Linked DNA regions of Homo sapiens. The protein of the gene in region 1 interacts with the protein of each later gene in a biochemical or structural test. Each region holds a gene or a part of one and is shown in the gene's direction. Other genes may lie near its edges. The genes, in order: BIRC3, SPHK1, CFLAR and HAX1.

Region 1 (5,448 bases):
ATTTTCTGGTTGTTGTTTTTGATTTTTGCTGTTTTCTTTTTTCCATTTTTTATTCTTTCTTAAATGGTTCTTTTTATGAGTCCTATCACTTGACAAAGTCAGTGTATCTAAAATCTAACAATCCTCTCTCCCAAAACAATTCTTCAGATAGCTCAGCCTCTGTCATTAGTTATTTTTTAGAAACAGCTTTATGGATTATGGTAAGCTATATGAAAATTAATAAACTTAGATTCATAAGTTATATTCCAAAGAGATAATAAAACTGCAGTTTTAAAATATAAAATGTTTTACCAATGGATACAAAATCTAGGTCTTGAAGGAGAATTAGATGATATCTTGTAGGACGAGAAGGTAGTCGTTGACAAATAGGGTTTATTATTCAAAATGCTGTTACTGCCTTTCCCTGCTTACTATAAAATATTTAGGTAATGGCAATATGTCTAATTTCTGGAAATAATTAAAATTTCAACTTAAAATGGAATTTTAAAGAAATTTTATGGGCCGGACATAATGGCTCACACTTGTAATCCCAGCACTTTTGGAGGCCGGAGTGGGCGGATCACTCGAGGCCAGGAGTTCGAGACCAGGCTGGCCAACATGGTGAAACCTCATCTCTACTAAAACTACAAAAAATTAGCTGGATGTAGTGGCACATGCCTGTAATCCCAACTACTCAGGAGGCTCAGGCACAAAAATAGCTTTAACCTGGGAGGCAGAGGTTGCAGTGAGCTGAGATCGCACCACTGCACTCCAGCCTGGGCGACAGAGCAAGACTCTGTTTTAAAAATGAATAAATAAATAATAAAAGAAATTTTATGGAAGAATGACACTTTAAGAAAAAATTGTTTTAATTCTCTTGATTTTGTCTTTCCCCAATTTGACTAGATTGAATTGAAACGTCAATTTTAATGGGTTCTAAGTTCCATTTGGTTAAAGGCTTAGCAGTATTGCCAAATGATTGAAAGCACAGTACATGACACCAGACTACCTCAGTTTGATTTTTGCTAGTTGTGGTGTCCTTCGGCAACTTAATTGCCTCACTGCAGCTTCATTTTCTCATTTGTTAAATGAGGCTATTAGGACCTACCTCAAAGAGCTGTTGTGAAGATGAAATGAATCAATACATGTAAAGTTCTTAACACAGTGCTCACTAAATGTTAGTCCTTACTATAAGTAGCATTATTATTATTATTATTATATTTTTTTAAGACAGGGTATTGCTATGTTGCCCAGTCTGGTCTCTGACTCCAGGGCTCAAGTGATCCTCCTACCTCAGCCTCCCAAGTAGCTGGTGCTACAGGCATGTGCCACTGCACCCTGGATTATAATTATAATAACATTATTATTAAGCAAAGGAGATGAGACACCCCTAAACCTAGCAATCAACATCAATGCCTTACTGATTACGAATTAAAGATAGTTTTTATCCTGCTATATATATAGGACTGGAAGGAAGTTTGTGAGCAGAGTTTGAACATGTTTATGCTTGTTTTCTTTTTTATAAAGATGATTTATTATTAATCCGGAAGAATAGAATGGCACTTTTTCAACATTTGACTTGTGTAATTCCAATCCTGGATAGTCTACTAACTGCCGGAATTATTAATGAACAAGAACATGATGTTATTAAACAGAAGACACAGACGTCTTTACAAGCAAGAGAACTGATTGATACGATTTTAGTAAAAGGAAATATTGCAGCCACTGTATTCAGAAACTCTCTGCAAGAAGCTGAAGCTGTGTTATATGAGCATTTATTTGGTGAGTGATAGAAAATTATTTTTAAAAATTTTCTAAGTCAATTGAAAATACGCTCTTATTAATAATTTATGACTACTGAAAATAATTCAGGCTGAATGTGGTGACTCATGCCTGTAATCCTAACACCTTGGGAGGCTGAGGCAGGTGGATTGCTTGAGCCCAGGAGTTTGAGACCAGACTGGACAACGTGGCGAGACCCCATCACTACAAAAAATTTTTAAAACAAATTATTTGTGATGGTGTATGCCTGGTAATCCCAGCTACTCAAGAGGATGAGGTGGGAGGATGGCTTAAGCCTGAGAGATAGAGGCTCCCATGAGCTGTGATTGTGCCACTGCACTCCAGCTTGGGTGACAGACTCTGTCTCAAAAAAAAATCAATCTAATTTATAGATATTAGTTACATAAAAAGATTAAAGACTTCTGTTGCCTTGAAATGAGTATTTGGCTATAGTCTAAAGTGTTCATTTTTAAAATAGATTCCATAGCTAAATATTAACCTTATTTGTCATAGTAATGCTTTTTCTTTTTCTCCCTTAGTGCAACAGGACATAAAATATATTCCCACAGAAGATGTTTCAGGTAATAGTACTAATATTTTAAATCAATAGAGAACATTGTCTTTATTTTCTTAGTTTTTCACTGAAGAAGCAAACTGCCTTTTATTAAAAATTCTTTCCTCTTTCTAGATCTACCAGTGGAAGAACAATTGCGGAGACTACAAGAAGAAAGAACATGTAAAGTGTGTATGGACAAAGAAGTGTCCATAGTGTTTATTCCTTGTGGTCATCTAGTAGTATGCAAAGATTGTGCTCCTTCTTTAAGAAAGTGTCCTATTTGTAGGAGTACAATCAAGGGTACAGTTCGTACATTTCTTTCATGAAGAAGAACCAAAACATCGTCTAAACTTTAGAATTAATTTATTAAATGTATTATAACTTTAACTTTTATCCTAATTTGGTTTCCTTAAAATTTTTATTTATTTACAACTCAAAAAACATTGTTTTGTGTAACATATTTATATATGTATCTAAACCATATGAACATATATTTTTTAGAAACTAAGAGAATGATAGGCTTTTGTTCTTATGAACGAAAAAGAGGTAGCACTACAAACACAATATTCAATCAAAATTTCAGCATTATTGAAATTGTAAGTGAAGTAAAACTTAAGATATTTGAGTTAACCTTTAAGAATTTTAAATATTTTGGCATTGTACTAATACCGGGAACATGAAGCCAGGTGTGGTGGTATGTGCCTGTAGTCCCAGGCTGAGGCAAGAGAATTACTTGAGCCCAGGAGTTTGAATCCATCCTGGGCAGCATACTGAGACCCTGCCTTTAAAAACAAACAGAACAAAAACAAAACACCAGGGACACATTTCTCTGTCTTTTTTGATCAGTGTCCTATACATCGAAGGTGTGCATATATGTTGAATGACATTTTAGGGACATGGTGTTTTTATAAAGAATTCTGTGAGAAAAAATTTAATAAAGCAACAAAAATTACTCTTATTCTTCATTGCTTTATTTCAATGACATTGGATAGTTTAGTCACTCCCAGACTCTTTCCATACCTTCTTAAAGCCTCTCAAATATTGAACTACAGTTTATACTCCTTCCCATAAGATGCTTCTTCATTGACACTTGTAGAACACGGGGTCAACACATCATAAAATCTATTATGGAATGCCTGAGACAAGAATCAAACAGTCCCTTTAGTAAGTTTGTTTATTCACTTCTCTATTGATTCATTCAAGAAGTCTCATGCCAGCCCCACCTATTGGAAGAAGGTCTGAGTTTTATTCTTATCTCTTTGGTATTAATTCTGAAACTTAGAAAGTACACTGGTTAGCAATGCTTGGGACCAACAGGTTGTTCTGGTAAATAAATCTGTTTCATATTGTCAGTGCAACAAAATGTCCCCCTCTGCATTATGTTATTGGTACTCAACACGTCCGAGTCATAACTCTGTCCTTTGCTTCTTATAGAGGTATTAGGTCTTCAAGAGCAGAAGTAAGACTGTAATAGGGAATACTCAGGGGAAGGCAGGCAAAGGCTAGTCATCTAAACCAGTTCTAGATGTCTGTATAGGGGCAGATGGCTCTGTAAGGGCAGAAGGGAAAGACCCCTTCATAAGGGTCACAGCTGACAATCCTATAACAAAAGACAGGTTAACAAGAGAAAAACTTAACAAATTTATTTAATCACAGATTTACATCACCGGGGAGCCTTCGTAATGAAGATCCAAAATTACAGGGGAAACTGTGCATTTTTATGCTTAGGTTTGATAATGAATGGACAGCCCTGAAGAATAGTGATTGGAAAAAAAGGATATGATCTAATGGGAATAGACACAGGTTGGGGACCCAGCAAGGCCTGTCTGTTCAGATTATTCTTGGTCTCTGTGCAGCATTCCTTCCTCCTGGATATAGGGCAGGGCCTGTATGGGATGGGGATATTATAACCTGCTATCAAGCAAGGTAGGTCAGAGAATTTATTTATGGCCAGCTCTTACATAGTTAGGTGAGGAAAGATTAGAGTACTATCTTTAAGATGTAAGTCTGGCATTGTGGAAAGATGGTTCCAGTTTCTATGACCTACCTTGGGGAAGAGGAATTCAAGTTTCTGTGGCTTGCCTTCAGGGAGAATGAGGCTGAGACAGGAGGGCAGGATAACATCAGAGAAAAACTTTGCTTCTGAGGCCTTCACTTTGGGTTTTCTGAGCCCCAACATCTGCTAGTGTTGTAAAGAGAACAATTAGGGACCAAGTGAGGGGAGGAAAGAATCCATCTCTGCATTCTGATGCTGGGAGACTTATTTCCTTGAAATGCAATTGATTTTGCCTCTGCTAAGAGGCTCTGCTGGCTACCCATGTACTAGCCAGTGTCCTGCATGGGTGCTAGGCTGAATTATTTGTAATTGTGCTTAGGTGATTTGTAACTCAGGTATAGGGTATTTAAATAGTAGGCACCCTTTTTGCACCATGTGTTTTTTTTTTTATCTAGTTCTTGTATACTACAGATAATATTTGAACTTTGTCATCTCACTGTAAAACTTTTGTTCATTTCTCATTATGGTAATAAATAGCTATTATAACCAACCCATTTATTCAAATATGTTATTTCCCTAAGTGTTATTTTGACATTTTGTTTTGGAAAAAATAAATCACCATAGATAATAATGGTAGATCTATTTGCTGACCAAATGTCAGATGTTTTCAGGTGCTTGACATGCATTAATCCATTTGATTGCCTCCAACCCCACCTACCAGCCAACGTGGTCTTCAGTCATTGGGTTTAAACCTCAATATATTAAGTGTGATCATACAGGACTTTGCAGCAGGCTTAATTTCATACTTCAGCCATGCTCATTATAGCTTCCATTCCAACCTTTCTCTTAATTTCCTTATATCGCTTGATACCATTAGCCATTAAGTTCCTTTGTGGTCACAGGCAATGTGATTGAACCATATTCAGCTCCTATTGGAGAAGATGTCACCTCCTTTTGTTGTCTTGCACATCATAGTAGACACTATGTATGTTACTAAGAAAATTCAAGACCAGATGCAGTGGTTCACACCTGTAATCCCAGAACTTTAGGAGGCCAAGGCAGGTGGATCGTTTGAGTCTAGGAGCTCAAGACCAGTCTGGGCAACATAGTAAGACCATGTCTTAATAAATAATTA
Region 2 (6,912 bases), on another chromosome or scaffold:
CCTTCCCCGGTCCTTGCAACCCCCTAGGCAGTAAAGTACCATAAAAAGGGAAAAACCGGAGTGGTGGCTCATGCCTATAACCCCAGCACTTTGGGAGGCCGAGGCAGGCGGATCACTTGAGGTCAGGAGTTTGAGACCAGCTTGGCCAACATGTGAAACACAAACTCTACTAAAAATACAAAAATTAGCTAGGTGCAGTGGCTCACACTTGTAATCACAGCTATTCGGGAGGCTGAGGCAAGAGTATTGCTTGAAACCGGGAGGCAGAGGTTGCAGTGAGCCAAGATCGCGCCACTGCACTCCAGCCTCAGCCTGGGCAACAGAGCGAGACTCTGTCTCAAAAAAAAAAAAAGGGAAAGAAGTTGAGGTCAAGGAAGACCTTGAGGCTATGCAATTAGGGAGCTGAAATCTCCTAGGGAAGGTAGCTTCAGGGAAGGGTGAGATGGCAGGAATCCTCTCCTCATAAAAGCAAGTAATTTGCCATCTGGCAGCCTTGACTCCAAGTTTCTGGAGAGCTGGGACCAGGCCAGGTGAATGCCTGCTTTCTTTCTCGGGAAAAGAAAAAAGGGGGTTCTCAGGTGTGTCTCCCTGGGGAGGCTGCCCACAAGGAAGGGGAGGCTGGGGAAGTTAGAAAAAGTCTCCCACCTGTGAAGCAGATTACCTGCAAGCCAAGCTCTGGGTTGGTGATCAAATCAGACCTCTCTGCCGGCCCAGGCCTGTTCCCAGGCCCACGGTGGGCCTTGCTGAGCACAGCGGCTGCTCAGCTGTTTCCAGACTCAGGATGAAGCCTGGGGAGGGCTTGGAGCTGCTTCCTCTTTCTTTTTTTTTTTGAGATGGAGTTTCGCCCTGTCACCCAGGCTGGAGTGCAATGGGACGATCTCAGCTCACCACAACCTCTGCCTCCTGGGTGCAAGCAATTCTCCTGCCTCAGCCTCCCAAGTAGCTGGGACTACAGGTATGCGCCACCACACCCGGTGTAGAGACGGGGTTTGAGACGGGTTTCTCCACGTTGGTCAGGCTGGTCTCCAACCCCCGATCTCAGGTGATCCACCCACGTCGGCCTCCCAAAGTGCTAGGATTACAGGAGTGAGCCACTGCGCCCGGCCTGCTGCTTCCTCCTCCTCAGGGAGACGCCACAGCTCTGCGGCAAGCAATCCACCAGGCACCAGATCCCCAGATACCTGCCCTTCAGGGAGAAATAGCCTGGGATACAGAGAGGCCCAGAGGGGAGCTCTGGCTGGACTTGGCTTCTCAGCGTGGGGTCTGGGTTCACAGGTTTGCTTCTCTGCTTTGTGGGGAACTGGTTGGAGGCTTGTGCAAGCCTCTTCACCTCTCAGGGTTTCAGGCCCCCCCAACTCCTTCCCGCCTTGTCCTTTTTTCTTTTTTAAAAAAGGAAGTAAAGTACAGTGGGAAACGGGCCAAGCTGGCAGCTTGAGAGATCCAAGTGCCCGCCCCCCGACCCGCAACCGTGGGAAGGGGAACCATCTTGCTCTTGGCCAATCCTGCCTCTCTGAGCAGGGATGCAGCTGGGGGAGTTTCTGGAGATAGGATCAAATTCTTTAGAAAGGGAGAAGGGGAAAGGGGTCTGGAGAAAGGCAGCCTGGGTTGGGGGAAGTGAATGACAAGAATGAGGGGGGCAAAGGCCTTGGAGGTGAGGGGGGCAGGGGGTTAGGCGCCAGGGAGGACAGAGGACCCATTGTGCGGCCTGGAACCGGGGCCAGAGGGCTTTGCCCTTCGCCTCCCTCCCGCGGGGCCTTCCAGAGCCAGGAGGGGAGCTGGGGCCCGGAGGCGTTGGATAAAGAGCCCGTGCCCCGCCTCCCCTTGCCAACTCAGTTTGCAGTCAACCCCGCCCCCGCCCGCTCCGCGGACTCAAGGCTGGTGGTAGTGGGCCTGGAGGCGCAGGATCCGACCTTTCTGGGGCCCCAGGAGGAAAAAAAAAGGGGGGACCCTGAACCAGGTGGGCTTTATCACCACGAACTCACAGTGCTTCCCTGTGCCTCAGTTTCCCCTCTTCAGACTCTATGGCTAATGACAGAGCTTTTCAGATTTGGTGGAAATGCTCTCCGGGGCGGGGAGCAGACGGGGAAGGCTGCCCCAGCTAATCTCCGCAGCCAGTACCCTCGAAGGCTGAGATCTCGGGGAGCACAGCCTCCGATTCGCGTTTTCTAGGCACCAAAGTCCCTCGCTGGAGGAAGAGGAGGGGAAGAAGGCAGAGGAGAGGGGAGGGGCGGACGGATCTGGTCCTGGGCTCCCGCGCGGAGCCCCCTCCTCCCACAGCCGCCGCTCGCGTCCCCGCAGCGCATGACCGCGGCACTGCGGCTGCAGGGCTCTCTCCCCCGCCCGCGCCGGATTCCTGGAGCAAGGGGGTGGGGGGCTCGGAGGTGCAGGACCCATCATTCCGACACGCGCCGCGACGCCAGGAGTCGGGGATGACGCCCCTGCTCCCTCCCCTCGTTCCTGTTTCTCGGAGTTTTTCGACCCCTGAGCGCGTCGCTGAGTCACCTTCCCGGAACGCGCTCGGGACGCTCTGGACCCAGCGGGGACTGCCCGGGGGCCGCGCAAGGCGAAGGCGCACCCGCCGATACGCGCGCGGAGCTGCGGCCCCAGGGACCCCGCGTCCCAGCCAGTGCCCCCCGACCCGCCCGGGGACTCTCGGGTCCCGCCCGTCTGACCCCCCAAGTGTTGGGAAACGGGGCCGAGCTGCCTGGGTCCTCCGGAAGAGAAGACACCGCGGAGGCGTGCCGGAGTTCAGGGCGCCGCCCGGCTAATTGGCTGCGTGCTCCTCCTGGACCTGCCTCTTCTCGACTTTAAGAAGCGATGAGAGAGGTGTGTGGGGGCGGGTGGGGCCGGCGGGGGCGCGCGAGCCCCGCAGCCTCCCGCAGGGGCTTGGTTTCTCCTAACTCTGGCCCTACCTGGGCAGGTCACCAATGGGCCTTGGCAACTTCTTCCTCCGTCTCCGCCGTAACCCCCCAGGGATCTAACTCGAGGTGCTCGCGGACACGTTCTGTGGCTTGCCGCGATAAGTGTATCACAAACACACTGACAAACGCGTCCCTACTGGCCTCCAAAGAAGTGACAACTTCTGAGCGCGTTTCCGGCGCCCCTTCTTCACGCTGAGCCAGAGGGGGCGGGGGGCACGTACCACATGCTTGGCTTTCCAATCCCGACGGGGGCCCCCAGGCCCATCTACACTGTCAAGCCTCCTCTCCGGCTCGGAGCCCCCGGCCTGTCGCCTGCTCTACCCGGGACAGCGCGCTAGGCGGCCTCAGGCTCGGTAGCCCAGCTGCAGCGTCGGGAAGTTAAAAATAACCTCCGTGGGAGCGCGGGGGAGGAAGAAAGAGGGAAGCTGGTGGGCGGCGGGCGAGACGCCCCGGCCTGGAGAGGCGCCCCGGGTGGCGTGCGGGCCTCGAATTTCGGGTGGGCTAGGGCAGAGCGCGCAAAAGGGGCGCTGCATCCCGGCGCCGACAGCACCCGCGGGGGCGAGGTCGTGGCGTCGAGGTGAAACCAAGGGTCCCCCGGGAGAGCGGAGCCGCGCGCGCCCGGCGCTCGCTCCGACACGAGTTCGCGCGGAGCCCGCGCCTCCGTCTGCGCTGCGCGGTCGCTTTCGCGCGCCCCAGACACTGCGCTCGCGGCCGGGCCCGGGACTCCGCGCCTCGCGGCCTGCCGCCTCAGCTCACCCGGCCAGGTCGCGGCGCCGCCTTCTAGCCAGACGCCTAGGACGAGCGGCGGGGGCGCGCTTGCCGCTTCCTAGGACCCGGGCGGGAACCAGCTCGTGGCCCGGCCGTGGGCGCGGGCCGTGCCGGAGGCGGCGCGCTGAGGCCGGAGGCGGGCAGAGGCCGAGGCCGCGCCGGGCTCAGGTTCCACCCCCGGGAGCGCGGGGCGGAGCCAGGCCGGCGCCGAGGCTCAGTGCCCTCCCCGCTCCGCGGCGCCGGCTGCGAAGTTGAGCGAAAAGTTTGAGGCCGGAGGGAGCGAGGCCGGGGAGTCCGCTCCAGCGGGGCGCTCCAGTCCCTCAGACGTGGGCTGAGCTTGGGACGAGCTGCGTTCCGCCCCAGGCCACTGTAGGGAACGGCGGTGGCGCCTCCCCAGCAAACCGGACCGACTGGGTAGGGCCGCCCACCCTGCCTTCGCGCCGCTCGTGGCTCCTGTGCGGCCCGCCCTCGCGGGGCCCCGGGAACTGGGCCACTTGTCGCTTGGGCGAGAGCAGGCGGCAGCTGGTGGCCCGGTTCGGGCTTGGCTTTGGCGCGACCCGGGAGCGGCTCCCACGAGCGCCGCGCGCGTCGCAACGGAGCGGGGCCCTGAGAAGCGCGCGCCGCGGCTCCCACCGCTCTGGAGCTCCGGGCAGGGGACACGGCAACCTGGATGGCTGGGGCAGGGATCCTCTCCCAGAACTTCGTGCCCAGCAATGTCCGCTCAAGTTCTGGGATTTTTACGCAGCTGGACTCCCCTCCCCCTGGCAGCCCCGAGGGGTGAGGAGCTAGTCCGTCGGAGGGAGCCACGGGGCTCTGACTCATCCGTCGGGCCGGAACCGAACCCCAAGCCCCAGGGAGAAAGCCCCGGAGCAGGCGCCCTTCTCAGGGATTGTAGGCTTAGTCACACGGCGGGGGCGCCCTCGGAGGCACCGGACCTCAGCTCTCTGGACTTCCCGGGAACCTGGCTCCCCGCGCGTGGTCCCGGGATTTAGTCGGGCGCTCCCCACCTCTGGCAGCTGCGGCCCCGGACTCCGCCAGCGCTGTCTTCTCTCCCTCAGGTCCAGCCGCCGCAGGGAATGACGCCGGTGCTCCTGCAGCCACGGCTCCGGGCGGGGAAGGCGAGCCCCACAGCCGGCCCTGCGACGCCCGCCTGGGCAGCACCGATAAGGAGCTGAAGGCAGGAGCCGCCGCCACGGGCAGCGCCCCCACAGCGCCAGGGACCCCCTGGCAGCGGGAGCCGCGGGTCGAGGTTATGGATCCAGGTTTGTGGGGTTCCTGCTGGGAAGGGCTGTAGGGGGATTCCTGTTCCTCGCCAGGAATGATGGAACGCCCAGCTGGACGAAAGGGGCTGTGGACGATCGGGAGAAACATTATCCCTCACGAGGCCAGAAGCCGGCCGAATCTGAGCCAAGGAAGGGGGTGGCAGGGGCGCCGCGTCCCCACCCCAGGTCTCCCAGCAAAGGCCGCTCCTCTGGCCAGGGTCAATTACCGGGGTGTTTCGGGCACCAAGTTCCCACACTAGTGCCCCATTGTTACCCGTGGCCCCCTAGTGGTCGGTTGCGGACGTGGCCTCTTTGGTTTTGTTTTCTCAGCGGGCGGCCCCCGGGGCGTGCTCCCGCGGCCCTGCCGCGTGCTGGTGCTGCTGAACCCGCGCGGCGGCAAGGGCAAGGCCTTGCAGCTCTTCCGGAGTCACGTGCAGCCCCTTTTGGCTGAGGCTGAAATCTCCTTCACGCTGATGCTCACTGGTGAGTACCTCTCGGAGGGGGTTTCGGGAGCATCCCCTGGCAGGGGACCCCCCCAGTCCTGATAGCTGCCGGTCTCCCTGCAGAGCGGCGGAACCACGCGCGGGAGCTGGTGCGGTCGGAGGAGCTGGGCCGCTGGGACGCTCTGGTGGTCATGTCTGGAGACGGGCTGATGCACGAGGTGAGGACCGCACTGCGCGGCTAGGCCTGGGGCTTGGCGCGGTGCGTCCCAGGCTGAGGCCACGTGTGCTTCAACAGGTGGTGAACGGGCTCATGGAGCGGCCTGACTGGGAGACCGCCATCCAGAAGCCCCTGTGTAGCCTCCCAGCAGGCTCTGGCAACGCGCTGGCAGCTTCCTTGAACCATTATGCTGGGTGAGAGCCCAGGGCCAGAGTAGGCCTGTTTCCCGTCAGTGCTCCTCTACCGCGGGGGTTTTCTTGTCTAAGCTCCCATAGGCTGAGATCATTTCCATTTCCCCTTCTCCCTTAGTCCTGGGGCCCTCTCCTGGTGACCCCAGCTGACTGCTTCCATTTGCTCCATCTGTCACCTACCAGTCCTGCCAACTCCCCAGGGACCACATGGCGCTTTGCCAGCTCCCACTCCCCGGGAGGAGGAAGCGGGGGATACATGGGGGCTCCTGTCCTGCCTTATCTGACTTTTTCCCCCTGCAGCTATGAGCAGGTCACCAATGAAGACCTCCTGACCAACTGCACGCTATTGCTGTGCCGCCGGCTGCTGTCACCCATGAACCTGCTGTCTCTGCACACGGCTTCGGGGCTGCGCCTCTTCTCTGTGCTCAGCCTGGCCTGGGGCTTCATTGCTGATGTGGACCTAGAGAGTGAGAAGTATCGGCGTCTGGGGGAGATGCGCTTCACTCTGGGCACCTTCCTGCGTCTGGCAGCCCTGCGCACCTACCGCGGCCGACTGGCCTACCTCCCTGTAGGAAGAGTGGGTTCCAAGACACCTGCCTCCCCCGTTGTGGTCCAGCAGGGCCCGGTAGATGCACACCTTGTGCCACTGGAGGAGCCAGTGCCCTCTCACTGGACAGTGGTGCCCGACGAGGACTTTGTGCTAGTCCTGGCACTGCTGCACTCGCACCTGGGCAGTGAGATGTTTGCTGCACCCATGGGCCGCTGTGCAGCTGGCGTCATGCATCTGTTCTACGTGCGGGCGGGAGTGTCTCGTGCCATGCTGCTGCGCCTCTTCCTGGCCATGGAGAAGGGCAGGCATATGGAGTATGAATGCCCCTACTTGGTATATGTGCCCGTGGTCGCCTTCCGCTTGGAGCCCAAGGATGGGAAAGGTGTGTTTGCAGTGGATGGGGAATTGATGGTTAGCGAGGCCGTGCAGGGCCAGGTGCACCCAAACTACTTCTGGATGGTCAGCGGTTGCGTGGAGCCCCCGCCCAGCTGGAAGCCCCAGCAGATGCCACCGCCAGAAGAGCCCTTATGACCCCTGGGCCGCGCTGTGCCTTAGTGTCT
Region 3 (7,028 bases), on another chromosome or scaffold:
CCTCGAAGAAGGGGCTAGATTTTCTTTTATACTTTGGTTTAGAAAGGGGAGGGGGGGGTCTAGTTAAAACAATTTTACAGAAGTAAAGTAGGCAAAAAAGTTAAAAGGATAAATGGTTACAGGAAAGTAAACAGTTCCAGGTGCAGGGGCTTTAAGACTATTACAAGGTGATAGACGCGGGGCTTTGGGCGTTATCAATCTGACGAATTCCTGAGAACTGCGGATATTGCTGGCCACAGTATCTTATCAGTTAATTGCATTCTTGGATGTGCTGGGAGTCAGCTTGCACAAGTTAAGTCCTTGCGGAAGGGCTGCCAGTGAAACAGCCAAGATGGAGTCTGTCTGGCTCTCTTAGCTAAGGGAGAGTCAATTCAGGTGAAAACAAGGCTAAGTGATTAAAGGAAAGGGAGAGTCTAAAAACAGCGTTAGTAAAAACAAGGTTGGGCATTACATGATCACTGGGTCTCCACTGTCAGAGGGTCTTTGAGCTCAGTTCTAGTGGCAGCCTCCTGATCCTCACTTCCCTGGCTGAGGCAAGGTTGTTGCAGCAGCCCCAGGAGTCTTTGTTAGAATCCCACCCCAGAGCTCCTTCCTCCAGTCCTCTCAGCAGTTTTGTTAGTTCCAGTATTAAGTGTAATTTCTACAAAAAATGCCTGGAATATTTCTGTTTCCAGAACCGGATGCTCCTGTTAGCTAGTGTGTGAAAGATAACTCTGACTTGCCTAAGCTTTGTTGATGTTTTGAATAATAATTGGCGATAGTCTCTTGACTTCTGCAAGAGAAATGAAACAGAAATTGGTCTCAAGTTTTAGTTGCTCTTGTGAAGGTCAGGGACAGTTTGTACCAGGGTGTGGGTGTGGAAAAGAAGGGGAGATATAGTCATTAAATTAGAATATGCCTGTGAGGGGAGTTAAGGGGAATTCCTTTAAAATTCTAGAAAACACACACAGGTGCCAATTTTGTCTGGCTAGGGAAAAGTAAACTGCTGAAAACACTTGGGGGGAGAAATGAAGCTAATGGTATCTTGATCAGTCAGGAGGATTGGGTATTTGAAAGCAGGGAAGAAAAATAATTGGACTTGGATATTCCTTTGCCCCTTCATCTGAGTAAGGTGAAAGCAAGTGACTCTTCAGAAGAGGCGAATGGGACACTGAGTCCAGCAGCTCAGGCAGGGTGGAGTTGGTAACTGATGGGCACAAGTCTTTTACTGGGCTCTAAAGAACTCATTCATCTGGGTGTGGTGGCTTACACCTGTAATCTCAGCATTTCGGAAGGCTGAGGTAGGAGAATCACTTGAGCCCAGGAGTTTGAGACCAGCCTGAGAAACACAGTGGGACCCTTTCCCTACAAAAAACTGAAGACCTTATGAGCTTCCCTAGTCTAAGAGTAATTTTTATGTTAATTTCTTGGCTTGGGCTTAAACCCCAACAAAGTGGTGATTATTCGGACCCCAGCCCTACCTCTCCCTAGTATGCTCTCCTTTCTCAAGTACTCACCACCTCTAGCCACAGTGAACTGCCTCCAGCATACACACACGCTGCTATTTTGTTGCATCTGAGTGGGCTGGCTCCACACGGGATCTGTAGTTTCCTTTTGATATTTTCTTTCAATGTGCCAGATGCTACCACTGAGTAATCTAGATTTTGCTGCCAAACTCTACCCCCGTTAGCACAGAGGGAAGACAGTATGCCAGTGCTCTTGCTGAGTGTGCGTGACTGGCAGAAAGCAGTCATGGGTGTGATGGTTGGAAGAAACAAACTGAGCAGATAATGTTTTTTAAAATGATTATCTCATTTTGTTAACTCTTGGTGGCATTGTTATATTGTTGATACTTATGAATTACAAAAGTTAGATGACTGTAAAAAAATAGAGAATTAAGCATTTCATTTCTAGTAGTTCTGTTTGGTTCTTTTTCAAATATGTCAGTGAATTTGTATAATATCTCATTTCTTAGTCTTGTGTTTAATGATTTTATTTTTGTGTTTTTATAATTCCTTCTACTGCATATATTTTATACTTTAATTTATAATAACAACTGTTGACAAAATTGTGACTATTCATTAATACAGTAGAAAAGAACTTGGCCTCCTTTTCATGGAAGCTGATGATGAGATTAAAGCACTGTTGGCCTGCGAGTGGAGTATAGATTTGGGCTGTCCAGAACACATAAAATTTGTATTTATCTTTCTGATAAAAAAAAGTAAAATAGTCTGAGTGCCAATTTTTCCACTTTCATTGAGCACATTTAATTTTAGTAAATTTAACTTAGCAAATTTAATTTCTCCAGTTATTTACAAATAATCATATTTAAGTGAAGTTGGGATGAATGGGCAAGCCCATTTCAAATTTCTAACCTAATTTTTCCTCTTGTTTTCATATAAAATTTTTCTATTTATGTGTTTTTATTTTAAGATAGCTCAAATCTTTTGTGGACTGATACTGTATGTATATAAATAAATGGATTCAGTGCTTCTTTCACTAAATACAGCTAGATAAATATATAAATATACTTGAACACAAATACAAAGCAACCATTGGCAATTTAGAGTTGGGTTGTGTTTCCACTTATTTTTTGTTAATAAATTTGATTTTAACCTGAAATATTGTCTTGTAGGAACAGATAAAGAACACAAGAGGTGATTTAACATAAGTTTTAGCTGTGAAACTTAGAGTAGATAGGTTAGCAACTTAAATTTTGAAAGAAAATAGGATGAGTTTCAATGGAAGAAATTAAGAACACACCCATTGCATGAGCTCCTTACCCCTCCTACCCAGCCCCCTCCCAGGAGTGAGATCTTTCCCCAGATCCTCTGTAACTTCCAGATGTTCCACTGAGAACATCAGAAGCACTAATGGCAATTGCTGCCATGTAGCAGTGCATTGAGAGTCAGGGCCTCTGGCACCTCCATGGGGCTCAGGGTCTGAAGACGTGATCCAAACCTGACAACTTGGTGGCAGGTTCTGTGAGCATTCATGATGTTGTGAAAAGGGCTTGGGGTCTAGGAGGATGGCAGCAGAGGTTTCTGCCCTCAGGTGTGAGTGAGGGGCTTTTGAAGTAGGAGAGCAACTAGAAAAAAGGAGTGGCACAGGGACAGAAACTTCTTTTCTCCATTGTTTGTTCAAGGCCACGTGGGTGGAGTCATTGAGGTGGAGGTTTAACTCTGTGACATAAGTTTCCCTGATTTAGTCAGGCTGTCTGTCGTTGGGCTTTTCCCACTTCCTTCTACTACGTACTTCTTCCCTATTCCTCCTACTGAGGCCATTAAACCCTTAGTTGTAATTTTCCCTGAACATGCTTTACATTCTGATGAATTCTGAAAAAGAATGTGGGGTTTCCTTGCAGATGAGTTCATCTGTTGTTTCATTTCCTTTACAATGTAGGTTTTCTTCTCTGTCTTTTTGGATTAGTCTGTTTTTGGTTCTGTCTACCAAGGATCCCTTTCTTTAGACTTCTATAGATCCCTTTCTATAGAACTTAATCTACTTAAGTCAGGGAGACCACCCAGAAGGAAAGAGCCCATACTTTCAATCTTAGGCATAAGTTAGCTTGATAAGATTTTCAGAAAAATTCCCTTTTAACCACAGAACTCCCCCACTGGAAAGGATTCTGAAAGAAATGAAGTCAGCCCTCAGAAATGAAGTTGACTGCCTGCTGGCTTTCTGTTGACTGGCCCGGAGCTGTACTGCAAGACCCTTGTGAGCTTCCCTAGTCTAAGAGTAGGATGTCTGCTGAAGTCATCCATCAGGTTGAAGAAGCACTTGATACAGATGAGAAGGAGATGCTGCTCTTTTTGTGCCGGGATGTTGCTATAGATGTGGTTCCACCTAATGTCAGGGACCTTCTGGATATTTTACGGGAAAGAGGTAAGCTGTCTGTCGGGGACTTGGCTGAACTGCTCTACAGAGTGAGGCGATTTGACCTGCTCAAACGTATCTTGAAGATGGACAGAAAAGCTGTGGAGACCCACCTGCTCAGGAACCCTCACCTTGTTTCGGACTATAGGTAATTCATCAACTCTTCCTGAGGCTGGGTGGGTGGGAGGGAGTGAAGTGTCTCAGACTCTACTGAATGGCAGAAACGAGGATAATAAGAAGTGCAGCCACTTTACTGTCTCTGCCCACTTATCCAACTGCCAGATGATGTCACTTCATTCCTGTGAGCCCTTTAAATTCTTGAAACTTGTTTTCTTGCTTTCTTTTTCTTTCTTTCTTTTTTTTTTTTTTTTTTTTTTTTTTGAGACAGAGTCTCACCCTGTTGCCCAGGCTGGAGTGCAGTGGCGTGATCTTGGCTCACTGCAACCTCCGCCTTCTGGGTTCAAGCGATTCTCCTGCCTCAGCCTCCCAAGTACTTGGGACTACAGGCGTGCGCCACCATGCCTGGCTAATTTTTTTTTGTATTTTTAGTGGAGACGGGGTTTCACCATGTTGGCCAGGCTGGTCTTGAACTCCTGACCTCAAGTGATCCACCTGCCTTGGCTTCCCAAAATGCTGGGATAACAGGCATGAGCCATTGCCTCCAGCTGAAACATGCTTTCTCAAAGGAATTGGGATCATATGCAGGTAGAAGGGCAGCTGGTATGTGTTTGCCTGAAGGATAGAATGACAAGACGTGAAGAAAGATAGGAATGACTAAGAGCTAGTCATTCTTGCCAGCCTCTGACAGTGTGAGATCTGCAGCAGTGTTTACTAGTTCATTTTCTGTGAAGTCAGTCCTTGATAATTTGTGGTACAAAGAAAGGAAATAACAAGTCTGACAGTAATCTTCCTACCTTTGTAGAGACTCCATCATCCCTTCTGAATCCCTGTTGGCCCTACCCTGCTGAGGAAGTTTATCAGGGTGGGCTCCCTTCCTGCACTTCCTGCGCTTGGAGACATTGGAGAGCCCACATTGAAAATCTCTTCAGTTAACCACATTTAAGTCCCTTCAGTCCAAAGAGGAAATGGCCACTGGAGTCTGCTTTAGTTCCCACAAGCTTTGGGTTGCTCCTTCCTCCTGTTCACATGTTAATGTCTTTAGAGGTTCAGAGGGGCATGGAAGCTACTGAGAGACTGACTTCCTGGGGAAAGGAAGATAACTTGTAACCTTAAGTTGGTGTTTTCTTTTTTTTTTTGAGACAAAGTCTCGCTCTGCAGCCCAGGCTGGAGTGCAGTGGTGCGATCTTGGCTCACTGTAACCTCTGCTTCTGGGTTCAAGTGATTCTCCTGCCTTAGCCTCCTGAGTAGCTGGGATTACAGGCACGCACCACTATGTCTGGCTAATTATTGTATTTTTACTAGAAACAGGGTTTTGCCATGTTGGCCAGGCTGGTCTTGAACTCTTAGCCTCAAGTGATCTGCCCTCCTTGGCCTCTTAAAGTGCTGGGATTATAGGTGTGAGCCACCATGCCCAGCCGGTGTTTTTTCTCTCGACCACCAGCCTTTTATTATGTTGATAATGTGTATTTGGAGATGATAATTATTATCAAGAACTATACTAAAGAGAGCTGAAAGCAGTGTGGGCTTTGGAAAGTATATGAGATTTGAACTTGGAAAGCCTGTTTTTTTGGTTTTTGTTTTTTTGTTTGTTTGTTTGTTTTTGAGACAGGGTCTTGCTCTGTCATCCAGGCTGGAGTGCAGTGGCATGATCATAGCTCATTGTAGCTGGAAGACCTGTTTCAAGCCTCAGATCTACCAATTATGGGCCAGGCAGGCTGGGCCAATCACTAACCTTGTTGGGCCTCTGTTTTCCTACTTGTAAAGCGAAAAATAATAATACCTGACTTTACAAGGTTGTTGTGAGCATCAGTTGTAATAATTTACTATGTGAAGTACTTTTTAAACTGTGAAGCACTCTACAGATAGAAGGGATTATTATCATTGTTATTATTATTATTTTTTTAATCTTCCACCTATTCAGCCATCAGTTTTAATGTCAGTAATCTTCAGACTTTCCGGGAGGCACCAACTGAGTTTCAGTGAATAGGGCAATCTCTCCATTTCCCATTTCCTTGCTATGATGAGTGGAGATTCTTCAGGCCCTCTGGGAAGGGTTGCGGGGGCAGTTGAAGAGGAGTGCTAGATTTATTTATTCATCTGGTGAGTGGGCTTCATTGTGTATTGGTGCTAAGTGTTTTGGTAAGCTCTAGGACAAAATGAAAAGTCTGCCATCCTCAAGAATCTGAGAGCCTAACTGGGAAAATGGCCTTGATGACAATGTCATGGTAACAATACTAACCACAGGGTGTCCTTAGGAGCCCCAGAAAAGTGTGGTTGTTGGTTCTCAAAGTCTATTTCCTAGGGGGGGAAAAATATATATATATATATATATATATAGTGTTAGCTCCAGCCACCAGTGAGTCAGGAGAGGCTTTCTAGGCAAAGACATCTAAGTTCAGAATCCTTGTGATCCAGATGCCTGTACCCTTTGAGTTCAGAGGTGGGCCAGGGTATCTCAGGTATTTCTTTCCTTTAGCATCTTGCAATTCAAAATATGGTCCTTGAATCAACATCACCTGAGAGCTTGTTAAACAGAGAAGGCTACTTCAAATTCTATTTCTGTCTTTTATGTTAGTCATTTGGGTTCTTAAGTCATTTCACTGTAACCTCTGGGGGAGCTAGGGGATTCTTTAAGGAAGTTTCCATTCTCTGAGTTGTTTTCAGAAACTGTTAGTTGGCAAAGGATGTACCATCTCCTATTAAACGGGCAAGGACAAGTTCCCTTTTCTGAGGTCCCTTAAGATCTCTTCCTGGGGTGATCTAGGCTTGCTGTTTTATGAGGGAGGGACATATTTACACAGGGGCAAGAACTAGTCTTTTAATCCATTGTTGCATAGGGGAGGCGTGGGCACTTGGAGTTGTCTTAGGACTGATGTCTGAATTAACTAAATGAACTTGTCTGGTTTGCAGAGTGCTGATGGCAGAGATTGGTGAGGATTTGGATAAATCTGATGTGTCCTCATTAATTTTCCTCATGAAGGATTACATGGGCCGAGGCAAGATAAGCAAGGAGAAGGTGAGTTTTCTTCTTTTGGTTCATGGCCCCAGGAGCC
Region 4 (6,966 bases), on another chromosome or scaffold:
GGTCAGGGAGCTTGAGCTCAGGAAAAATCCCAAGACTAGTTTGCTGATCCCTTTTACTCTGTCTCCTCCTGGCCTCCTGGATAGCAGTCCTTTGAGAAACAAGGTTTTCATTCCGGTACTCCTGCTGCTTCCTTCAACTTGCCTTCAGCCCTAGGAAGTGGGGGCCCCATCAATCCGGCCACAGCTGCTGCCTACCCACCTGCCCCCTTTATGCACATTCTGACCCCCCATCAGCAGCCGCATTCTCAGATCCTTCACCATCACCTGCAGCAGGATGGCCAGGTAATAGCCCTTCCCCTTCTCTCCTTTCCCTTCCTCTTCCTTCCTATCCCTTAAAACTGCCTTCCCTTTCCTTTTCTTACCCTTCCTCACCACCACCTTCACCCAATCCCTCCCCAGCGCCAGTCATGGGCACACAGCACATACAGACACAAGCGCACATAACACGAGCGGCCGGCAAAGGAAATCTCAGAGAAGGGCCGGGTTGAAACCTTTTTTGCCCAATTCCTTTGGTGCCCTTCTCCTCCTGTGCCACAGTTGTCCTCATCCCATCAGACCTGGGTCACACCTTCCCTCTTTCCTCTCCCAGCCTTCCCTCTTCCCTGACATTTTAGCTTTCCCTTCTAATGGTGGAGTTCTATTGTCAAAGTTTGTCCCTTTATTTTCCATATATCCTGGTTCTGCCTCAGCTACCATATTTGCAGATGATTCTCTGTTGCCAGCGCCAGCAGGAGGAGCAGGTAATGAAATTGAATGATCATATGCTTGAACCCACTCCTTTTCAGTCCCCATTTCACCTTCACAGCCTCAGGGAACTTGAAAAGACTGCGCGGTCACAAATCGGGATACACAAACACAAACACCTTGCTGAGCTCTCTGGCCTCCCCTTCCTCTCTCCTCCTCCCCTCCCCAACACCCTCTTTATCTTTGTACCCTTCCCCAGCTGTGGAAAACATTCGGTTACCAGAATGGAAAAGATTCTTGGGGCAGCATCTGGAGCCTGAGGCCTCAGACTGCCTCTCATACCTGCCTGAAATGGGCTCACAGATGTGATGTGTGGTAGGGGTGGGGATCTGTGGGGCGATGCAAGTGGCCTCTTGAGAGCTCCATTATAGGTGGCTGGAGCTAGAATAAGGGCTTCCTTCCTCAAAGACAGCTTTCCAAATTGAGGCATTAATGGGGATCAATGGAAATGAAATTGCCTTGTGATCACCCATCTCCAAGAGCAGGGGAGAGAGGGGGTAGTGTGAGAATGTAGAATTGAAAATGAGTAGAACTCACTCACTACCTTGTCTCTAAAGGTATCTTGCCCTCTTCATCTTTTCCCTATTTAAAAGTCAAAAATGCCTTCCTGCTTGTAAGAAAGGGGCTTTAGCAGCTATGCAGACCAAATTTTCTATGGTTCTAATAGTAGTGAGGGGAATGGGAGAGCAAGACAGTTTGCACATCTCCACCTGAAGATGTTACAAATTTGTACCACTAACTAGACACCTTTTTCCTCCTCATGATCCTCCCATTCCCCTGCAGACGGGCAGCGGGCAACGTAGCCAGACCAGCTCCATCCCGCAGAAGCCCCAGACCAACAAGTCTGCCTACAACAGCTACAGCTGGGGGGCCAACTGAGGCCCTGACCCTCTTCTCCCGGTCCCATCTTCTGAGAGGGCTTCTCAGCCTGGAAACTATGGAAACAGCATCAAAGAGAAAGGAATGTGGGGGGTTTCCGCTGCCCCCCACCCCCAGCGGCCCACCCCATGCCTCAGCTTCATGTCTGTCCCATTCCTATACCATCCCCACCCTGTTGTATGTATTATAGGATTTGTATTTTCTCCTTTTTTTTCCCCCTTCCATTCCTTCTCCCCTCTTGCATTCAAGATTATGAAACTTTGCTATGGGCCCTGCACTTCCTTTGCTTCCTCCTGTTCACCCTGGTGGTGTACGGATGAGGCGGGGAGGTGGGACCCCCAAACATATATCAGCCCAACAGCCCTAAGTCTCCTTCTTTATTATTAGGAAAACAACAACAACAACAAACAAAAAAATGGCGTCATGAATATGAACAGCATTGTCAGATGAATTAGTTGAAGTGGTTTTTTTTTTGTTTTTTTTTTTTTTTTGTACTGTGTCCTCAAATTTAATGGATTAATGTGTCTTGTATATATAAAAAGAAAACCTCTACCTTCAGCCTCTGCCTATTCTTGCTCCGTCTAGGACATCCTCAATTTCGTCGATGACCAGCTTGGTGAATAAGTATTACTGTACCAACTGGGCCTCCTCTAGCAGGCCCCTGAAGGCAGTGGAATAAAATGAAATCTTCGCCCTTTAAGAACTCCTGACCTTAATGTGGTAGTAGTATCTTGTCCTTGAGGGGATTTCCTTCCCCTCACCCCTAAGACTTTCACAACCTGGTGACTGGAAAGAACCACCACAAATCTTCATTTCCTCCAGAAACTGCTACATCTACAGCCGATTTCAGGCAGTAAAGGGAGAGGGATAGAGGAGATTGGGTGGAAAATGGAGAGGATCAAGAAGGAGCTGAGACCATTTCAAAGAAAAAAAATGCTTTATAGAGTTTTAAGTATGACTTAGATGGGTCCAGGCAAATAAACTAAAAAGAAGTGAAGGCAACATGTATCGTCTGGCAGAACTAAATCTTGGAGTGGGGTGAGGGATGAAAGACTACATATTGGGTACAGTGTACACTGCTCGGGTGATGGGTGCGCTAAAGTCGCAGAAATCACTAAAGAACTCATCCATGTAACCAAACACCACCTGTACCCCAAAAACGAAATAAAAAAACAAAACCTTGGGGCCCATTCCCCCTAGGAATGGACTACTGTAGTAGTGGCTTCTTGGATGCTTCTCTGTGACATAGCTATACCCAATTCTTTGAAAAAGAATCTAGAGCAAGGTCTGGCTTGGGGATGGGGTACAGGGAGAGACAGGTCTCGGAGAGGTTTTGAACAAAACACTTTTAAAAAGGAATGAGGACAGGCGCTTTGGGAGGCTGGGTTGGGCGGATCACCTTAGGTCAGGAGTTCGAGACCAGCCTGGTCAACATGGTGAAACCCCGTTTCTACAAAAAATACAAAAGTAGCCGGGCGTGGAGGCGCATGACTGTAATCCCAGCTACTCGGGAGGCTGAGACAGGAGAGAACCTGGGAGGCGAAGGTTGCAGTGAGCCGACATGGTGCCACTGCACTCCAGCCTGGGAAACATGAGAGAAAACTCTGTCTCAAAAAAAAAAAAAAAAAAAAAAAAAAAAAGATACCAAAGGGATATTTCTTTATAACCCCCAATTTGTTCCTTCTCAGGACTCAACTAGCTTCCCTTCCCTTGCTTTCTTAAAAATCCTTTGTCTTGCTGGTTGCAGAGCCTGCTTAGAAAAAAGAATTCTATATAGTTATAACAAACTCCCTAGTAGCTAGAGAGGTGGAGGAAGTTAAGTCCATGCGTCTCTTATGTCTTGATCTCTTCTCTGGGAAATTCAATACTAGAAGGAGCTTGGAAAAGCATTTTGTTCATCCCTCTAACAGCAGACATCGCCCAGGTCAGTCAAAAAGAACGCCCGAGTAAGGAGCGAGGTGGCTTCTGCTGTGAGGCTGGCCAGCCCCGCGGGTGGGGTGGTTGAGGGACGCCCTCAAGCCGGTCCATTTGTGCGGCTGGGCTGCCCTCTGGCGGCTTTATCCGGGTGCCATCCAGAGTCAAACCCTCGAAATCGCTTTTCGTACTGAGTTGGTCTGCAGAAAGAAGAACAGATTTAGGAGGAAGGCGGTCATAGGAAACTGAAAGTGCGTCACGCCCACTCCCGTCACGGAAACTGGTCTCTGAAAGGTGGGGTAAAGATAAAGCCTTTCAAATTTGAGGAAGACCTTCGGTCCCGCCTCCATTTCACGTCCGGCTTACCGTCGTTTACGACAGTGTCAGGATCGCGGGCTTGCTTTCCGGTAGCGTGGGCTGACGCCTCGCTCAATTTCTCACAGGGCTGCGCAGGTTTCCCCCGTCTGCGAATGGACCACTGGAGGGGTTCAAAGGTTCGCGTCCCAGTACGGGAATGAGCCTCTTTGATCTCTTCCGGGGCTTTTTCGGCTTTCCTGGACCTCGGAGGTGAGAGTAGGTCCGGCTCGGACAAGGGTGGGGGTCGTCTGAGGGGAGCTTGACCCCTACGTCTTATTTTTGGAAAAACATCCTCTGTCCCACTCCTTCAACTCCTGCAGAGAGGACAGAAGTCGCAACATTGAACACTCACCCCGCCACAGTAACCAAGGCGGTCATTAAGAGGAGAAACAGCAAACTAAGCCTTTCTCCAACCTGGGGTGATGCAACAGGGACCCGGGCGGGGAAGACCGTGAGGGTCTGGGGAATAAGACAGTGAGCAAGTGAGCAGGACCTTGGGAGAGAGAGGAGGGACTGGGGCACACTGAAGAAAAACTGGGGGAAGGTGTATGAAGGGAGCTGCGAGCTGAGGTCTGACTTTGATTAAAAAAAAAAAAAAAAAAAAAGAACTGTCAGCCATTGTATTAATGTTTTGATGTGGCAGCCAGTCCTCCGACCCTCTCCCTAGCTTCCCAGACCCCTTGCTCTTGTCCCACTTTGCCACCCATGAGTTGATTTAATGGCTTAAATAGTGCTGAAATATTGGTGGCCAATCTGCCTCCACTCTCAGCCACAGAGATCCCTTTTTTGGAGGGATGACTCGAGATGAAGATGATGATGAGGAAGAAGAAGAAGAAGGGGGCTCATGGGGCCGTGGGAACCCAAGGTTCCATAGTCCTCAGCACCCCCCTGAGGAATTTGGCTTCGGCTTCAGCTTCAGCCCAGGAGGAGGGATACGTTTCCACGATAACTTCGGCTTTGATGACCTAGTACGAGATTTCAATAGCATCTTCAGCGATATGGGGGCCTGGACCTTGCCTTCCCATCCTCCTGGTGTGTGGCTTTCCCTAAGGGGCAACCTGTGGTTTCTGGTGGGTTGGTGGGTGAAATAAAGAGCCTGCAGGGAGTAGCTGGGGGATGGGAAGTGTGAGAAGACTGATGATTTCAGAGAGATTAATAGAGCCCAAGTCCTTTCCCATCCCAGCAAACACCTGCCACCTTTCTGCAGAACTTCCAGGTCCTGAGTCAGAGACACCTGGTGAGAGACTACGGGAGGGACAGACACTTCGGGACTCAATGCTTAAGTATCCAGATAGTCACCAGCCCAGGATCTTTGGGGGGGTCTTGGAGAGTGATGCAAGAAGTGAATCCCCCCAACCAGCACCAGACTGGGGCTCCCAGAGGCCATTTCATAGGGTGAGTATCCCATCTGGTCCTGAAGTGAGAGCTTGTGAGAGACCACTAATAAAGTGCAAAGACTGGCTAGGTGCGGTGGCTCACGCCTGTAATCCCAGCACTTTGGGAGGCCGAGGTGGGCAGATCACCAGAGGTCAGGAGTTGGAGACCAGCCTGGTCAACATGGTGAAACCCCGTGTCTACTAAAAATACAAAAAATTAGCCGGGCATGGTGGCAGGTGCCTGTAATGCCAGCTACTCAGGAGGCTGAGGCAGGAGAATTGGTTGAACCCAGGAGGTGGAGACTCCATCTCAAAAATTGTTTGAGACCCAGCCTTGCTCTGTTGCCCAGGCTGTAGTGCCGTGGCACAATCTCAGCTCACTGCAACCTCCAATTCCCAGGTTCAAGTGATTCTCCTGCCTCAGCCTCCTGAGTAGCTGGGATTACAGTCGCCTGCCAAACGCCCAGCTAATTTTTGTGTTTTTAGTAGAGATGGCGTTTCACCGTGTTGGCCAGGCTGCTTTTGAGCTCCTGACCTCAGGTGATCCACCCACCTCGGCCTCCCAAAGTGCTGGAATTACAAGTGTGAGCCATCATGCCTGGCCAAAGATTGCAATTCTTGTTTGAATCTGATAGCCTTGGGTTGGAATCCTAAGCCCTCCATTTAGTGTTTTCTGTTTTCTATATTAAGCTTGTGGGATTTTCTTTGGGGGGAGATGGGTGTTCTGTTTCTTTTAAAAAACAAAAACAAAAAAACACCACTGGTCTAGATAATTCTTGGATAAGGCAGGATTGTGCACAGAGGATAGGAATATATCAGTTCAGGAAGTCTTTCTGGTAGAAGGATACATAAAACAGCCAGGAAGGAGTGTGTAAATAAGGCTATTCTGAATGGAATTATCTCTTCTGTGGAAGGGGGTTTTGGAGCTCGGGAGTAGTTTGAGGTCTATGACCTTTCAAATTTCAGATTGGAAGGAGTCTTTTCACTTACTATGGTTTCTTCTGCAGTTTGATGATGTATGGCCTATGGACCCCCATCCTAGAACCAGAGAGGACAATGGTAAGTCTGGAGGAAGGGGAAGTTTACCAGCCTTTTGTTATTCTTCTGAAGTTCTGTGTGTTCTCCCTCCCTGAAGTTTCTTCCTGTACACTTGTCTCCTTTTTTCCTTTGGACTCTTTCTCTCCTGCTTCTTCATCTCTCTGCTCTTCCAGATCTTGATTCCCAGGTTTCCCAGGAGGGTCTTGGCCCGGTTCTACAGCCCCAGCCCAAATCCTATTTCAAGAGCATCTCTGTGACCAAGATCACTAAACCAGATGGGGTGAGTTGAAAGAAAGAGGTAAAGGAAAGTATGGCCAGGGAACGAATGCCCTGAAACAGGGATCTGTGTAAAGAAACTGCTGAGCATAACCTTTAGTAACATTCGGAATATGGTGGGGACTTCTCTTTGTAGATAGTGGAGGAGCGCCGGACTGTGGTGGACAGTGAGGGCCGGACAGAGACTACAGTAACCCGACACGAAGCAGATAGCAGTCCTAGGGGTGGTAAGTTAAAAGACAAAGGGGTTCATCTCAAGATTCCTTGGGGAAGGGAAATCTTACTCTTCTACCCTTGTCCTTTGCTTCTGCCTAGTCTCTTTCATTTAGCCTATTTACGTGTATGACTTTCTTCCTTAGATCCAGAATCACCAAGACCTCCA

What was found.
Region 2: the proteins of BIRC3 (region 1) and SPHK1 form a complex in vitro, tested with the Homo sapiens proteins (one study listed by BioGRID).
Region 3: the proteins of BIRC3 (region 1) and CFLAR form a complex in vitro, tested with the Homo sapiens proteins (one study listed by BioGRID).
Region 4: the proteins of BIRC3 (region 1) and HAX1 form a complex in vitro, tested with the Homo sapiens proteins (one study listed by BioGRID).

What each region holds. Positions count from the first base shown.
Region 1 is NC_000011.10:102,334,460-102,339,907, forward strand, and holds the end of BIRC3 (baculoviral IAP repeat-containing protein 3), read left to right. Parts: intron 1-1,506; coding exon 1,507-1,761; intron 1,762-2,300; coding exon 2,301-2,342; intron 2,343-2,449; coding exon 2,450-2,643; 3' UTR 2,644-4,944; downstream 4,945-5,448. UniProt on the Homo sapiens protein: Multi-functional protein which regulates not only caspases and apoptosis, but also modulates inflammatory signaling and immunity, mitogenic kinase signaling and cell proliferation, as well as cell invasion and metastasis.
Region 2 is NC_000017.11:76,380,704-76,387,615, forward strand, and holds the start of SPHK1 (sphingosine kinase 1), read left to right. Parts: upstream 1-3,905; 5' UTR 3,906-4,103; exon of another isoform or gene 4,104-4,402; coding exon of another isoform or gene 4,403-4,466; intron 4,467-4,574; exon of another isoform or gene 4,575-4,747; coding exon of another isoform or gene 4,748-4,941; coding exon 4,942-4,951; intron 4,952-5,239; coding exon of another isoform or gene 5,240-5,281; coding exon 5,282-5,434; intron 5,435-5,517; coding exon 5,518-5,612; intron 5,613-5,689; coding exon 5,690-5,805; intron 5,806-6,102; coding exon 6,103-6,883; 3' UTR 6,884-6,912. UniProt on the Homo sapiens protein: Catalyzes the phosphorylation of sphingosine to form sphingosine 1-phosphate (SPP), a lipid mediator with both intra- and extracellular functions.
Region 3 is NC_000002.12:201,126,144-201,133,171, forward strand, and holds part of CFLAR (CASP8 and FADD-like apoptosis regulator), read left to right. Parts: exon of another isoform or gene 1-3,377; intron 3,378-3,585; 5' UTR 3,586-3,722; coding exon 3,723-4,003; intron 4,004-6,637; exon of another isoform or gene 6,638-6,885; coding exon 6,886-6,991; intron 6,992-7,028. UniProt on the Homo sapiens protein: Apoptosis regulator protein which may function as a crucial link between cell survival and cell death pathways in mammalian cells. Acts as an inhibitor of TNFRSF6 mediated apoptosis.
Region 4 is NC_000001.11:154,268,673-154,275,638, forward strand, and holds the start of HAX1 (HCLS1-associated protein X-1), read left to right. Parts: upstream 1-3,956; 5' UTR 3,957-4,051; coding exon 4,052-4,104; intron 4,105-4,663; coding exon 4,664-4,926; intron 4,927-5,101; coding exon 5,102-5,289; intron 5,290-6,277; coding exon 6,278-6,329; intron 6,330-6,481; coding exon 6,482-6,588; intron 6,589-6,720; coding exon 6,721-6,811; intron 6,812-6,943; coding exon 6,944-6,966. Other genes in the region: UBAP2L (ubiquitin-associated protein 2-like), read left to right, coding at 85-282, 690-740, 1,528-1,623. UniProt on the Homo sapiens protein: Recruits the Arp2/3 complex to the cell cortex and regulates reorganization of the cortical actin cytoskeleton via its interaction with KCNC3 and the Arp2/3 complex. Slows down the rate of inactivation of KCNC3 channels. Promotes GNA13-mediated cell migration.